Homo sapiens: one gene and its partners. The protein of the gene in region 4 interacts with the protein of the main gene of each other region in a pairwise test. Each region holds a gene or a part of one and is shown on either strand. Other genes may lie near its edges.

Evidence for each region. Proteins that work in one complex are often made in the same cells at the same time.
Region 1: the proteins of CCDC102B (region 4) and TNNI1 interact in binary tests that used the Homo sapiens proteins (3 or more experiments, as listed by UniProt).
Region 2: the proteins of CCDC102B (region 4) and KPNA3 interact in binary tests that used the Homo sapiens proteins (3 or more experiments, as listed by UniProt).
Region 3: the proteins of CCDC102B (region 4) and SH3RF2 interact in binary tests that used the Homo sapiens proteins (3 or more experiments, as listed by UniProt).

What each region holds. Positions count from the first base shown.
Region 1 is NC_000001.11:201,415,000-201,418,944, reverse strand, and holds part of TNNI1 (troponin I, slow skeletal muscle), read left to right. Parts: intron 1-1,132; 5' UTR 1,133-1,151; coding exon 1,152-1,162; intron 1,163-1,825; coding exon 1,826-1,829; intron 1,830-3,690; coding exon 3,691-3,732; intron 3,733-3,945. UniProt on the Homo sapiens protein: Troponin I is the inhibitory subunit of troponin, the thin filament regulatory complex which confers calcium-sensitivity to striated muscle actomyosin ATPase activity.
Region 2 is NC_000013.11:49,785,952-49,789,896, reverse strand, and holds part of KPNA3 (importin subunit alpha-4), read left to right. Parts: intron 1-3,945. UniProt on the Homo sapiens protein: Functions in nuclear protein import as an adapter protein for nuclear receptor KPNB1. Binds specifically and directly to substrates containing either a simple or bipartite NLS motif.
Region 3 is NC_000005.10:145,998,864-146,002,808, reverse strand, and holds part of SH3RF2 (E3 ubiquitin-protein ligase SH3RF2), read right to left. Parts: intron 2,752-3,945; coding exon 2,482-2,751; intron 1-2,481. UniProt on the Homo sapiens protein: Has E3 ubiquitin-protein ligase activity. Acts as an anti-apoptotic regulator of the JNK pathway by ubiquitinating and promoting the degradation of SH3RF1, a scaffold protein that is required for pro-apoptotic JNK activation.
Region 4 is NC_000018.10:68,891,867-68,895,811, reverse strand, and holds part of CCDC102B (coiled-coil domain-containing protein 102B), read right to left. Parts: intron 1-3,945. UniProt on the Homo sapiens protein: During interphase, forms fibers at the proximal ends of centrioles to maintain centrosome cohesion. During mitosis, dissociates from the centrosome following phosphorylation to allow centrosome separation. Contributes to CROCC/rootletin filament formation.

The DNA of each region.
Region 1 (3,945 bases), on a different chromosome or scaffold from region 4:
TTTTACTGATTGAATTTATTTTACTTCCAAGTAAGATTTGGTTAGGACAAAGGATTCAACCAAATAATATTAATTAAATATTATTTTAATTACTTATTATTAATAATAAACATCAAGAGGAAACTCACTGATTTAACCCCTAATTTTGCAGAGAGGAAAACCAACCCAGAGAGGGGAAAGACAGACTAGGGTGAACACGGGATTTGCCCTGCCTTGCGGCTTATTCTCTCCCACTCAAGGCCTCCCACTGCCCCACCCTGGAGGTGCCAGTTGCATTGCCATCTGTGGATGGAGTTGTGCCATGTGGCAGCTACCCGTTTTCCAGCATCCACTCTGCTCATTCACTTTCTAGGCCTTCCTCTCTCTGAGCCCTTCAATGACCACCCTTATTCCACAGGATAAAGTCTAAACTCAGCCTGTCCTTCAAGGCCCTCATGAGTGAGCTACACTCTCACTTATTTTTTTTTTTTTTTTTTTGAGAAGGAGACTCATTCTGTTACCCAGGCTGGAGTGCAGTGGTGCGATCTCGGCTCACTGTAACCTCCGCCTCCTGGGTTCAAGCAATTCTTCTGCCTCAGCCTCCTGAGTAGCTGGGACTATAGGCGTGCACCACCATGCTGGCTAATTTTTGTATCATTAGTAGAGACGGGGTTTGACCATATTGGCCAGGCTGGTCTTGAACTCCTTACCTCATGAACTGCCCGCCTTGGCCTCCCAAAGTGCTGGGATTACAGGCATGAGCCACTGCGCCCAGCTGCTCTCACTTTCCAAACATATTTCCTATGGACTCCATTCTGTTCTCCACTGGGATTGGCAAGCTTTATCTGGAAAGGGCCAGATAGCTTTGTAGCTCACATAAGGTTTCTGTTGCAAATTCTTAAAAAAAAAAAAAAAAAAAAAGCTTACAATTCTTTAAGCAAAAACAGGCTGGGAGCCAGGTCAGGCTTATGGGCTGTAGTTAGCTGACCCCTGCCCTGCAACCCTGTCCCATCTTGACCTGCTGGAATCCAATGTGTCTGATTTCTTCCTTTTGTGTTCTGACTCTGTCTCCTAGGCTGGGCTCCCAAGGCCCAGCTGGGCAGGGGCAGGGGTTTCCACTTTCCCTTATGAATGATTCCTCTGTGCCCCCTAGGTGCTGTCTCACTGCCACCATGCCGGAAGTGTAAGTAGTCTCACTGCCATCTGGGGCCCCAGGAAGGCAAGTCCCTTTGCCACAGACTTCAGCCCCGCAGTGGAGGCACCATGTTTTCAACCCCCAAAGCTTTTCCCTAAGAGACCAGGTCCTCAAACAGGGGCAGCACTTGATGGTTTCCCCTGTGCTGCCTGTGTCCTCCCAGCCATTGAGCAGAACTCACTCCCAGGTTGCCCTGGGAGTGCCTTTTTGGCTTGTGCCTCAGAGATTTCCTGTCTTGATCTATCACATGAATTGCATGTACCAGGCCACCACTTAACACTGGTGCAGTAGGTGAACAAAGCTTTGGGAATTTACCCACGCACCCGTGGATGGATGCTTTCACGTTGCTGGAACCCTACGCTAAGGCTTCCCTCCCCTTCCACCACTTGTCCCCAACTTACGATGCCCAGTACCTCCCAATAAGAATGCCCCGTAGTTCAAAGGGCTGTTGAATTTTTATTTTATTCTGCCGGAACCTCAAACCGCTCCCCTTGCCTGATGCCTGATGACTTTCTGGCTCACTGTTGTCACTGGCCCCCTCCTCCCCCAAGCTGGTCTGTGAGGTTCTGCGACTGCACATGTAATCCTCATTGTTCATACTCACTCTGTGTTCTGCTCTTTCCCCGTCCTTCCTGTGATGGATGCCTGAAGCGAGGTAAGTGATATTTGGGGTATCTCTGTCTTGGTTAACTCTAACGACTGGTAAAAGTGGGAAGGTGGGGTTGGCATCTGAGGAGAGGGAAGAGCCTGTGTTAAGGCCTGGTGGGAGTCCAGGGGGTGTAGGGTATTTAGTGGCTGAACAAATTCCCAGGAGATGGAAACGTCAGGTGAAGATTCTGGATGTGGGGCTTCCTAGTGTCCAGGGAGTTGCTGTGCCAGTGTACCATGTCACTGGAAGGACTGGTATTGCAGCAGGGTTGGGTGTGACTCTGCATCCTTGCTGAGCACAAGCTCTTCCTCACCCACTCTGAGAGCTGGTCCAGTCCTGGGGGGACCATCCTATTCCATGCAGAGCTGATCCTGTGCAAAGCTATATTGGAAGGGTAAGGGATAGTCATTGGGTTATTCCACCCTTGCCCAATGGCTGAACATTGATTGAGGAGCAAAGAGATGTCCTTAAATCCCTCAGGTGTTAGAAAACCCTGACACTGGCCATTCTATACACTCCAGACTTACCAGGCTACTGAGATCACAGCCTATGTACAGTCCAAGGATGGGGATGGCAGGGATAGGGATGTGGGCCCAGGGATGGAAACAGTGAGAATTAGCAGTATTGATGGAGGGGATATTTGGCACAGAGATTCTCAGTAAGAATTGAACATGTTACTTTTCAACATTCATATGAATTTTTAAGTTTTGCTGAGGCTCGTATTAAAGTGAGTCCTCACTGACTGATGGTCAAATGAGGTGGCCATCGGCTCACCAAGTGGTGGGGAAATAAGATCGCAGTCAAACATTTGCCATGTGTACATTACAGTGTGTAAACCATGGTAGTAATGCTTAGAGTCATAGGCTCTTTCTTTTGAAATTGCACTTATCTGAAATGTAACAAAAATCTTTAGGAGAGGAAAAGACAAACCAACCACTCTGAACAGTCAGAATAGAAGTTACACATTCCATTTGCTGAAACTCATCCATTGTCTCTCATGAGAACTTCCCTCTCAAAGCCTAATCACTTCTACTTGACACCCTGGAATAACATTTGAGAGCCATGCTCTGCCGGCTCACAGCACATTAAGTCTAGGTAGGATGCTTCCTGCTGGCAATGAGAAGTGACCGCCTATGGCCCAGAAGATACTCTAGTGCTCGAAAGGCATCACAGTCTCATTAGTTGGGGACCAAGCAGCCCTACTACTCACCTTTGCCAACCCTGAGGGACCACTGTCACAGGGCTAGGACTAGTAAGCAAGAACATGTTTAGGATTTTTGATAAGAAGATAAAACAGTGGTTTTATATCTTAGAAAGATTTGTATGGGTGGTGTTAACATTTTTAAAAGTTTTGAGGTCTACATAGATACGTTTCATTTATTTGGGAAATTCACAGCTTATTTATGCAGCATGACGGATCATCAAGGTATTGCTGTATTACTACCTGGAGTGTGAAAACACATAGCTTTTACGATTTTCAAAGGATTTGCACATCCATGATCTCATTTCATCTGCAATAACTCTGTGAACTAAGTAAGGGGGGGGGTCCTAATATCCTTATTTACAGATGAGGAAGGAGGTGCCTGTAGAAGCCATGTGGCCCTCATAGTATCTTACAAGATTTCAGCAGCAGCAGAATCAGAGTGGGAAGTTAAGGCTTCAGCCCCTAGGTCAAGGTAGCTGACTGCAGCCTTCTCTGAACTGCAGAGGTTAAATAACAAAGATGAGCTTTTAAGGCACCGTAGGGTGAGCAGAGGATTCCGGATAAAGATAGAGAACGCTGGCTGGCACTTGTCTTGTCCTAGACCAGAATTCCAGTTCTGCAGCCTCTGCCTCACCACCTGTCTCTCTCTCTTCTTGCCCACAGAGAAAACCCAAGATCACTGCCTCCCGCAAACTCTTGCTGAAGGTGAGGCTGGGGGCTGGCTGTGGGGGGATGCCCAGTGGGAGGCAGAGGGGCAGCAGAGCAGACTCTGAAGGGATGTGGAGGATTATGGCAAGGAGAAAGGAAGGAGGCCAGAGTGAGGATGATGAGGGGCAGGAGTCCAGCATTGCTGGAGCCAGTGCCAGGCTCAGGTGATCAGTAGGTGGGATCCTCGAGTATGGATTCTGGCATCCGCCT
Region 2 (3,945 bases), on a different chromosome or scaffold from region 4:
GAATGGGAGTGAGCTGATTGTGAAGGATGAAAGAAAGGTGGCCAGGCAAAGGGCGGGAGAAGGCTGGTGGAAGAAAGGGGCATTCCAGACTAGAGGGAGCAGTAATTGAAGAGTCCTGAGAGAAATGTAGGAGAGAGAGAGACTAAAGGGTAAACTGGGGTCAAATCTGATGAAGGGCCTTTATTGGGGATTTAGGCATATCTAAGAGTAGATAACCATGCTTAGTCTTGTCCATTAGAAACAGTACAACTTAGCTCTGTAACTGAGTAGTTGTGGTTATCAGGCTGTTCCAAAACAGTGAGATGCACTTTGATAAGCTATGATGCCTATTTTTTCACATATAGGATAGACAAAAACTAAAACATGTTATAAATTATAGAAGCAGCTGATACACAAGATGTTAGGTGCAAGAATAAGATCCATACTTGTTAAAGAAAATAAAAGGATAGAGTTATGCCAGGGGATTTGAGTAGAGAGAGGGTTGAGGAAGAAAATTTCTTTGTCATTCAATCGAGAGAGACTTTAAGAGATCTTTGGAGAGGAAAAAAAAAATGAGGTTAGTGAATCTTATAGGAAATATGTACCAAACTTAAAAGGGGCATGTTAACTGGTGAATAAATATCCAGGTAAAAAAGAAGAGTGATTATATTAAAGAGAGGAGACTTCCAGGTGGCCTGTGTTGATGCAAGAATATCTTGTGGCAAAGAGTTGCTTGGAAGCTTTTTCTTAATAGGGAGATGTGAAGGAATTTATTCCAGAGCAAAGAGGAGATGTAACATGATTAGAGCAATGGAAAGGGTGACAGGGCAGTAATACCTAGAATTCATTTTGGAGAAATAGCGCTGTTGTCTGATCTGCAAAGAAGAGTTTTCCAAAAAATTGAGACTGGGAATGGCTACAACCTGGAATGAGGATTTGATGATGCTGTTCTTCCTCCCTCTTCCTCCTCCTTCAAATTCTCTTTATAAAGATCACTGAAGAGAAAGGGAGTAAAGGTTATTCTGAGGTTTATAAATGGAGGAAGGGAGGGAGTAATTATCATCACTGATAGAAATTTGGAGCTTGGGTAGGGGATGCATTTTGTAGCAAAAACTAGGAAGTACATATTGAAAGGGAAACATTTCCTTTTATTTGTTCTGGAATGTGCTTTTTTTTTTTAAAAAAAAAAAAAAAAAAAAAGAGGGTCTGGCTCTGTCGCCAAGGGTGGAGTGCAGTGGCCCAATCTCGGCTCACTATAACCTTCGCCTCCTCCCAGGCTCAAGCCGTCCTTCCATCTCAGCCTCTTGAGTAGCTGGGACTACAGGCACATGCCACCACACCTGGCTAATTTTTGTGTTTTTTGTAGAGACGGGGTTTTGCCATGTTGCCCAGGCTGGTTTCAAACTGCTAGCTCAAGTTATCCTCCTGCCTTGGCCTCTAAAAGTGTTGGGATTAGGGGCATGAGTCACCATGCCCGGTCCTGGAATGTGCATTTTAATGCTAGACCTTTTCATGTAAGGCATTGATTCTTAAAAACTTTTCCTGTTTTCAAAGATAACTTATAGAAAAGTGTGCAAAACAGAAATGTTCTGTTTAATGAATAATTACAAAACAAATGCTCAGGTAACTGCAATCCAGGTCAACTCATTTTCTTGCTGCTGTATACCTCAAGGGTGTGACATTTTCATTAGTAACAGTAATTAATTATTTTAAAAACCTTAACATTTATTGTTTACAGTATATCAGTGCTAAGTACTTTATATAGATTATCTATTTAATCTTCACAACAGTCCTATATCAAGTAAGTACTATTATTATCCCCATTTACTGCTGAGGCAACTTGAGGCCTACAACCCTTAAGTAAGTGGCCTTAAGTCTTCCATCGGGTGTTAAGTGGCAAAGCCTGGACTTACAATATATCAAAGCTTTATGCTAAGCGGCTGGGCGCAATGGCTAACGCCTGTAATCCCAGCACTTTGGGAGGCCGAGGCAGGTGGATCACCCGAGGTCAGGAGTTCGAGACCAGCCTGGCCAACATGGTGAAACCCCGTCTCTACTAAAAATACAAAAATTAGCCGGGCATGGTGGCGCGTGCCTGTAGTCCCAGCTACACGGGAGGCTGAGGCAGGAGAATGGCGTGAACCCGGGAGGCGGAGCTTGCAGTGAGTCAAGATCGCACCACTGCACTCCAGCCTGGGCGACAGAGCGAAACTCCGTCTCAAAAAAAAAAAAAAAATACAAAAATTAGCCGGTCCTGGTGGCTCATGCCTGTAATCCCAGCTACAAGGGAGGCTGAGGCGAGAGAATCACTTGAACCGGGGAGGCAGAGGTTACAATGAGCTGTGGTCATGCCACTGCACTCAAGTCTGGGCGACAGAGTGAAACTCTGTCTCAAAAACAAACAAATAAAGCTTGATGCTAAAGCTAGAACTCTTGCTTACTGTGCTGTACTCCACCGAAGGGAGTCTAAGACTTGACATGTACAAACCACGCCTGAAAGTTAGTGAATGGGGAAAATATTGAAGAAATATCGACTATATCACAGAAATTGCTATTTCTATACTTTAAAACCTTGCAAATTTTTGATGAACTTTACTATTAGATTTATTTGCCTTTTTATCTTTTTACTCTTGCAAAGTTTCCTTCTTATCAGCAAGGAGCCAGTTGGTTGGTTTTACCAAAAAATGATAATCCGTATCTTTGGGCTTAACACTTAAGCTTTATGCTTTAGTTTCTGATACCAGGGCTAATATATATTTTCTCACCTGCAAAATTCAGTTAGCTCTACCAGACTTGCTTCTGTCTCTGGAACCTCCAGTGCTAAGTGGCACTATCTGATTGTCCAAGTTTAAGATTCTATCCTTGACTCCCTTCTCTTCCCCTCCTTCACCCTTCTTTGTATTAGTTATCTGAAGAACCCTCATGTTTGTACCTGTTACCAACCTTACTTCCTCTGCCCCTAGTTTAGACCCTTATCTTTGTTGCCTGAACAAGTATAATAGTGTACCTAGCTCTTCTGTGTTCAGTATCTTCTCTCCCCAGTGTATCTTGTGGATTGATCTTTCTCATATCTTTCTGTGTTACTTTCCTGTTTATGATCCTTCCCATTGACTTCAGGATAAAAGTCCTTAGCATGCCACACATAGTTGTAAGACCTTACCTTTTTTACCTCACCTTGCACTTTTCCTTATATCTCCTTTGTGCCAGCTGTGATAAAGTACTGGAGATGCTTGAGTAACCAGTAGTTTCTTCTTCATGCCTTTGTATATGCTGTTCTGTGTGCCTTCTTTTGACTATCTGTTGAGTTGGGGTTCACTCTGGCAACCTATCTCTTCAGTGAGACTCCTTCATATATCTCTGGAACACCAAGATTACAATTCTGCCACACCATGTCATTCTAGTTAAAAACCAAAAACAAAAAAAAACTTTAAAAGTTCTCCATGAGCCTTTCCTGACTTACAGTATACTTGGTACTATCAGTCCCTATTCTTTTCCTCCTCTCTAGTGTTTTCCTAGGTGAATTTTCCTTCACCTATTTGGGATAAATTGCTGTGATGTACAACAAATTCTGTGTTTGTATAGCTATTAAAGTATTTGGGCTCTGTTGAGAAGCTCAGTGAGAATAGATACCTTGGATGTAACTTGAAACATGAAACTTAATGAGAAGAGAGACTAGATGATATACCTGAAAAAAGTCTACATTTGGGAATGAAAGGTTCAGTATTATTCTAAGACATTAATTTTCTTTTGGTGTTGACTCCATGGCATTGATACTGTTGCCTAGCCCTCCTTGAACAGCCTGTTCTCCTATAATGTATTTCTGTAACATGAACTCGCTCATACTTGAATGGTTAATAAAAAAATGTTAAGGCAAAGTTCATATTGGTTCATATGTGATTTTTAGTATCACATTAATGTTTAGCACTCTTAAATAACAACAGTTGAACATAAAGTACAGAAACAGTT
Region 3 (3,945 bases), on a different chromosome or scaffold from region 4:
TTTAGATCCCTTGCATGCGCAGTTCACAATAGGTTTCACGCTCCTATGAGAATCTAATGCTGCCACTAATCTGACAGAAGGTGGAGCTCAGGCAGTAATGCGACCCATGGGGAGCAGCTATAAATACAGATGAAGGTTTGCTCACTTGCCCACCTCTCACCTCCTGCTGTGCGGCCCGTTTCCTCACAGGCCACGGACTGGTACTGGTCGGTGGTCCTGGGGTTGGGGGCCCCTGCTCTTACACATGTGCAATTATGCATTTATAGGTTATCCTTCCTTCCTTCCTTCCTTCCTTCCTTCCTTCCTTCCTTCCTTCCTTCCTTCCTTCCTTCCTTCCTTTTCTTTCTTTTTTAATTTTTAGATGGAGTCTCGCTCTGTTGCCCAGGCTGGAGTGCAATGGCGCGAACTTGGCTCACTGCAACCTCCGCCTCCTGGGTTCAAGCGATTCTCCTGCCTCAGTCTCCTGAGTAGCTGGGATTACAGGCACGCGCAACCACGCCTGACTAATTTTTGTATTTTTAGTAGAGTCGGGGTTTCGCTATGTTGGCCAGGCTGGTCTCAAACTCCTGACCTCAAGTGATCCGCCTGCCGCGGTCTCCCAAAGTGCTGGGATTGCAGGCGTGAGCCACCGTGCCAGGAGGTTATTATTTCTTTAATGTCGGTCTACCCTATCTGACTATAAACTTCATGTGTGCAGGGCCTATGTCTGTTTTGTTAATCTTTGTTTTCCCTAGCACCTAACACAGTGGCTCCCTTTTAGTAGTCAGCCAATAAGTTTATTGAATGCATGCATGCATGAATAAATACATGACGTTGAATAAATTACACAATTTACTGAGCTAGAAAGCACTAGGAAAAGAACAGCTTTGGGAAGGAAGATCTTGAGTTTAATTTGGATATGCTGAGTTTAGACCATGAGATTTCCTAGAAGTCTGTGTATTTCACAGCCTTCCAGAATGGGTCAAATCCTCTCTTTTGGTTTCTTTGTCATAATTTCCCATTTATATGTCTGTTTCTTCCACTAGATTGCCAGCTCAGTGTAGGTAAGAACAATGACTCATCACTTTATCTCCAATGGCCAGCTTGGCACATGGATGGGCTCAAGAAATGAATGAGTGTGTGAAGTAAGTGCCCCAGTTTACAAATTCCCAGAAAGGGTGAGAGAGGCAGACGATGATACTTCCTTATGTCTTCCTCCAGCTGTGTGTCTAATGCCTGGCACAAAGTAAATAATAAATATTTGTGGAATTGAACTGACTTTCCTCTAGCTGTAGTCTAGGTCTACACTTTGCTGTTTGGGCTGTAGAATGACCTTCCTTAGGAGTCTCGCTCTGAGGTTCCACGGCAATAATAAAGATCATTATCTCAAAATATGGAGGGCAGAGAGGTTGTCTAGTTTGAGAAAACCTGAAGTAAATCTCCTTTCTGGTAGTGGTGGAATAAAAACATTTTGTAAAACGAAACACCTTGCCTAAGCTATTGTAGCAGTGCCACTTTTTATACTTACATTTGATCTACTTATCACGAGTAGTCAAGAATGAAAATAACTCCAACTGTGGTTTCTATGAGAGATGTGAATGTTTATGGAATAACAAATACTGAATACAGATAGTTAAAGTAGTGTAGACTTTAGTACAACTGTCATTAATTGCAAATGGTGGGGAATCATCTAATGAAAAAGAGAGGCACAAGAAATCTTAGGGTAATTAATGTTTGAAAAATATATCTTGTAAGAGGTTATTTATGTAGAAAGGCACGATTATGTTATTGTGTGTGTCTGGAGTGTTTTGAATGAGATGTTTACAACAAGATAGAATGTAAATGAGTAGAATTAGGTAACCATAACTTGGTTGCAAGAATACCCTGCCACATACATGATAAAGAGGTAGAGGCTGTAGTTTTACATAGCATGTTATCAAATTGTTTCTAATTTTCTGTCCATGTATCGGTGCTTCCCATTACTCTGCCAGGAGAGCAGAGACTGTGACTTATTCACGTCCTATTCCCAGGGCCTTCAAGGAGTAAATGCTCAAAAGTGATAGAATGAATAAATCAAATGTGTTATTCAAGCTGTTGACAGTGATTGTATCTATATTGTGGTGTAATATTTTCCTTGTTTTGCTTATCTGTATTTTCAAATGTTTCTACAATGGTTTCAGGATAAATGAATGAATGAATGAGTGAATACTTTTGTAATTACAATAAAAAAGGCTTACAGACTTCTATCACTTATTCGTAGATTTCTCTAGAGATTTCACGTGCATGTAGTTTGAATTGTACACACATATTACATATATATGCACTACATATATACATACGTAATTTATGCACAAAATATATTTTTATGAATAAAATATTAACAATAATATAATATATTTAAAATACAATTTTTTAAAATCAGCAAATATTAAACAAGGAACTCTGTTCTGCTATGGTCTCTACGTGGTCCCAGGTGACTCTGGTGGCCACCCAGAATCCTACCTTGAGGAAGGTCAGGCAATCCTGGTTCTCACTCTTGTCCTTGCCTCGTAGGTCGAAGTTGTAGAGGGCCCTGCAGAGCGGGGGCGGCTGGGGCAGCTGCTTGATGACTTCCACGGAGCTGGCTGGGAAGTTCCCGCTGATGCCATTGATTTCCCCCTGGTACCAATTCTCATCAAGCTGTCTCCGGAGAAGGATGATATCTCCCTTATTAAACCTTAGGTCACCGGGATTCTGCCCTCTGTAGTTGCATAAGGCCTTTGCTCGAGGCACCTGCAATGGCACAGACCAATAAGATATGTACTTAGCTTAGAGTCTAGAGGAACAGAAGATACAAGCATTCCCCCTTTTATTGTACTTTGCTTTAACATGCTTTGCAAATACTGAGTTTTTTACAAATCAAAGGTTTATGGCAACCTGTGTTAAATAGGTCTATCAGCGCCATTCTTCCAACACCATGTGCTCACTTTGTGTCTCTGTGTCACATTCTGGTAACTGTTATTAACTTTAAATATTTTAAACTTTCATTATTATTATATCTGCTATGGTGATCTGTAATCAGTGATCTTTGAGGTTACTATTGTAATGTCTCGGGGGGCGCCACAAACTTTGCCCATACAAGACAGCAAACTTCGTCGATAAATGTTTGTGTTCTGACTGCTCCACAAACTGGTCATTTTCCCATCTCTCTCCCTCTCCTTGGGCCTCCCTATTCTCTGAGACACAAAAATATTAAAATGAGGCCAATTAATGACCCTACAATTGCCTACAAATTTTCAAGTGAAAGGAAGAGTTTCACATCTCTCACTTTAAATCAAAAGCTAGAAATGATTAATCTTAATGAGGAAGGCATGACTAAAGCTGAGATAGGCCAAAAGCTAGGCCTCTTGTGACAAACAGTCAAGCTGTGAATGCAAAAGAAAAGTTCATGAAGGAAATCAGAAGTGCTACTGCAGTGAATACATAAATGATAAGTAAGTGAATCAGCCTTATTGCCGATATGGAGAAAGTTTGACTGGTTTGTGTAGAAGATCAAACCAGACACAACAGACCCTCAAGCCAAAGCCTAATCAAGATCAAGATCCTAACTTTCTTTAATTCTATGAAGGCTGAGAGAGATGAGGAAGCTGCAGAAAAAAAGTTTGAAGCTGGCAGAGATAGTCTGAGGTTTAAGAAGAGAAGCTGTCTCTATAACATAAAAATGCAAGGTGAAGCAACAAGCCATCAATATTGAGGCAAGACCCACCACCAGCAAGAAGATTACAACTTGCTGAAGGCTCAGATCATCATTAAGGTTTTTTTTTTAGTAATAAAGTATTTTAAATTAAGTTAGATATATTGTTTTTTAGGCATAATGCTATTGCACACTTAATAGACTACAGCATAGTGTAAACACAACTTTTTTGTTTTCTTTTCTTTCTGAGATGGAGTCTTGCTCTGTTGCCAGGCTGGAGTCCAGTGGTGTGA
Region 4 (3,945 bases):
ACCATTTACTCATTGTCTAATTCTGGACAAGAAATTTATTATCTTATTAAGTTTTCTTACTAGTAAAATTAGTATGATACCATACATATAATACCATAAATACAATAGCACAAATACCATATTTGTGGTATTGTAGGGACAGAAGAGGGTCAACTACTCAAAATTCCTTGCAAACTATTTAGGATGATTAGAGTATGAGGCATTTTAAAAATATCTCAAAAGGATAAAAATTCTAAATTACTTGTTTTAACATTGTTGATTATAATGGCTTCATTGCAACATACTTTATAATTATTATACTGTTATAAAATCTGTTGCTATGACATGCTAAATTCTAAAAGCCCAACAACTTAGTCAACATTTAGAAAAATGTTACATTTCAACAATATCCTTTATAGTATCATAATAAATTATGATATAAAAGCCTAAAAACTGCTTTTTCATATATATATAATTGTACCATTATTGTAGAAAATGTTCTGTTCCCAAATCTAAGAGATGTTCTGGCTTCCAAAATGTAGGAAACCAAAATTACATTCTTGGCACTAGACCTCATTTACCAATTATATATAATAAACTAAGGGTCAAATTTTAGATGATGTAGTTTGACATTTGGGATGCTTGTTTGGGAATATGAGGTGAAAATATTATATCACAATTTAATTTAGTACCTGCCATTACTTTCATTGTTAAGATTAATACTTAAAGTTTCTATCATTGCCTCACTTATCAGAATAAAAATGATAAAGTTGCCACAAGAAGGCAGCAACTTAGCAATGAAAAATTAATATAAGGAGAGCAAATGTATTTTTGGGCAAGGACAAATATGCTGTGTCAAGTCTTTGTGAACTTGCAGTATTCTTTTAAATGTTAAAATTAAATAAATTGATTTAACATTAAATAACAGATAACAAGTAGAACCAAGGTTTTAAATAAGTAATACATGGTCTGAATGAATAAATTTTAACTCTTAAGATTTTTTTTAAGTAATGATTTTAGCAGTAGCAACAACAAAGCTTAAATAATGCCTTCTGATGTTTTACTATTGGCAGATTTATCAAAACATACAAATTATTTGATAAATATATGTGTATAACATATATTAAAAAGTAAAAGTCTTATAAAATTATAAGAAGTTTTAGTTTTTATTTTGTAAAACTGTTTCTTATCACATCATTCTTTTCCAAGAATCATATGAAAATTCACTAACTTAAAAAGCATTTAATTGCATGTACCTTAAAATGATAAATAAAAAGTCAGGTAATATTTTAAGCTCTCAGAGTTTATCATAAAAATTACAATAATTTTATCAAATGGAAATAGAATTCCATTGCTTTGCTTCTGATGATGAAGAGAAACTCCTAAAATATTTTAATTCTAACTCAACTGTGAATTTTAACCAATAGCGTGTTCTAGCATTAAATGAATTTCAGATAATGCAGAAATTACTGAAACCTGTTTTCTGAAAATTTTAATGTAAAAGTACATTCTTTGTACAGTAAGCACTAAAATATTTGTTCACTTAATGACATCAATTTCTTATTAAACGTCGAGAAAAAGTACATAAATATCCAATACTACACTTACTGAATGAATATTTATTGAGCTTATTTATGTATCAAGAAACAAAGAGGAACTGAATATATGACTTTAAAAATACAAATAGAATATGAGTAACATTGGGCATCTTTTTACAAAGGAAAAAAAATTGAGTGTCATAGAAAGGCCTGCAATAAATCAGGTAAAAGGAGAAGGTTGTTTGAGGAAATGATTGATATTTAAGCTGCAAATTGAAGTTTAATAAGGCAGAAAAGCACAGCCAGACCCAGAGTGTACCAAGCACAGAAAGCAAGAAAAATGTTTGAACAGTGCAAGACCAAGAAGAGTCTGTGCAGTTATGGAATGTTAGGATTTGGGGAGAACATGGTATAAAAGGAAACTGGACAAACACGGACTGGTTCTGAAAAATAAGTATGAATATCAGAATCAGTTGAGTTGCTTGTAAAAACTGTAATATTGTGATTATTCCGAAGGATAAAACATTGGATCATTTTCTAAACATAGCTATTTACTCATTCTTCAACTGCCATGGCTTGATATTGTTGAAAAGATACTGACAATTGTAATCATTAACAACAACTGGAATGTAAGCTTTATGAAACCAGGACTGTGTCATTTTGCTCATAAGCCCAGCACCAGACACACACTGTATGTGTGCTCCATAAATAACTGTTAAGTGAAAGAGAAAGCAGATAATGACAGTCTCCAGGAAAAAGCCCTTCTGTATTTCAATGACAATGATTACACACAAAGCAAAATTAAGACAGCACTCTAAAAGAATCCAGTTACTAGACTTACCATAACATAACATGAAAAGGACTTCTCCGTACATTGGCTCTGAACTCTTACTGCTATTGCCAGAGCTGTTTTACATTTTATAGTAGTGAACACAGTGAGGCAGAGAGGATTTTTAATAAAATAACCTACAGATGAGTCCCAATTCTCCTTTTAGACTGATTGCCTCAATTTTTCTTTTTTATAACATAAGAAAACTCTTTCCTACAACCTAGTGTTATGAGGGAGAACTGAAATCATTTAGAGAAAATATTTATTAACTTCCAAATTCAACTCAAAAATGTCTAAAGTCATAAATTTATTTCCTAAAGAAGAAAACATCAACAGCCACTTCAGATACAAAATAGTGTATTTACTTTTTCCTCAAGTTGTACCAAGATGACAATCACTTTTTAAATGGACCTAGTCAATGGAGAAAACTCCCAAAAGAATGCACTATATGCCACTTGGCAGGCCAGTGAAGAGTCACCTAAAACCAATGTGAATGTTCCAGTAATTGATTTGCAAATATTCAGAAGGTAGCAGCTGGGTTCAACTACACTCCCTGTAATTGAGATATGAGAGCCATTGTCTAATGCCAGACACAACTATTTCCTTACATATGTATTGATGTTATACCTATTTTTAAGCTTTGCAGTATCCCTCAAGATTTGAATGTGTTTATCTTTCAGTCTTAAATTACATTGAATTTATTTGCTAGACTTATTTAGATGTCTGTTTTGTAATATCCAAATAAATCAGTCTCTTAAAGTAATTTTTTGTAATCAATACAAAAATAGATGACTATGGCTATAAAATAGTATCCTTTGAAAATTGCATAGTTTAGAACGTGAACACAGACTAAATCTCACTCTCTCAAGCCAACCTCCAAAGATCAAAAATGAGAAAAAAATAAAATCACTGGTAGCTGCAAACCTGTCAACACAATAAAGAGGCTTAGACTTATAGAAACTTGACGGATATGTAAGAGGTGCAATAAATGTCTGAGGGCAGCAGAGACTTCTCTGGAGACCATGTGGGAGCAGAGTCAGATGGGGATGGTGCAGAAGAGAAAACATGCGCTATGGTGGATGTCCTGTAAAGGTAGCCACATCACCTTAAGCAGGGAAATAACTGAGAACAGATCTCAGACCTGGAGAGCCAGAACACAAGCTACTATCAGAAATGTAATAAAGGAGATTAGAAAGTACAAGGGTCATTGTTTTCAGGTTTTTCAAGGTCATGGGTAGCACTCTAGATTGCAAGGGGTATCTTGGAAAGCAGGGCTGTCATTTAGAAACTTCCTGGAAAGGGACAGGAGGAAAGCAAGAAGTTGATATTAAGGGAATTATCAAAGAATCATAAGACAAATTGATTTTCATCCTCCTACCCAAAAGCTTGGATTTTTAAAAAGTGTCCCTTCACTGTATCGACAAAAGAGGGCATATTACAACTAAGAAATTAAGTACACAACTCGTAATTTTTATTATTCCACTTTCTCCCATAGAACCCACCTGTTACCTCTTATTCTTGCTATCCCTGGAAAATCCTACCCAACTGTTATGGACTGAATTGTGTACCCCCCAATATTTGTCTTTAGAAGTCTTATCC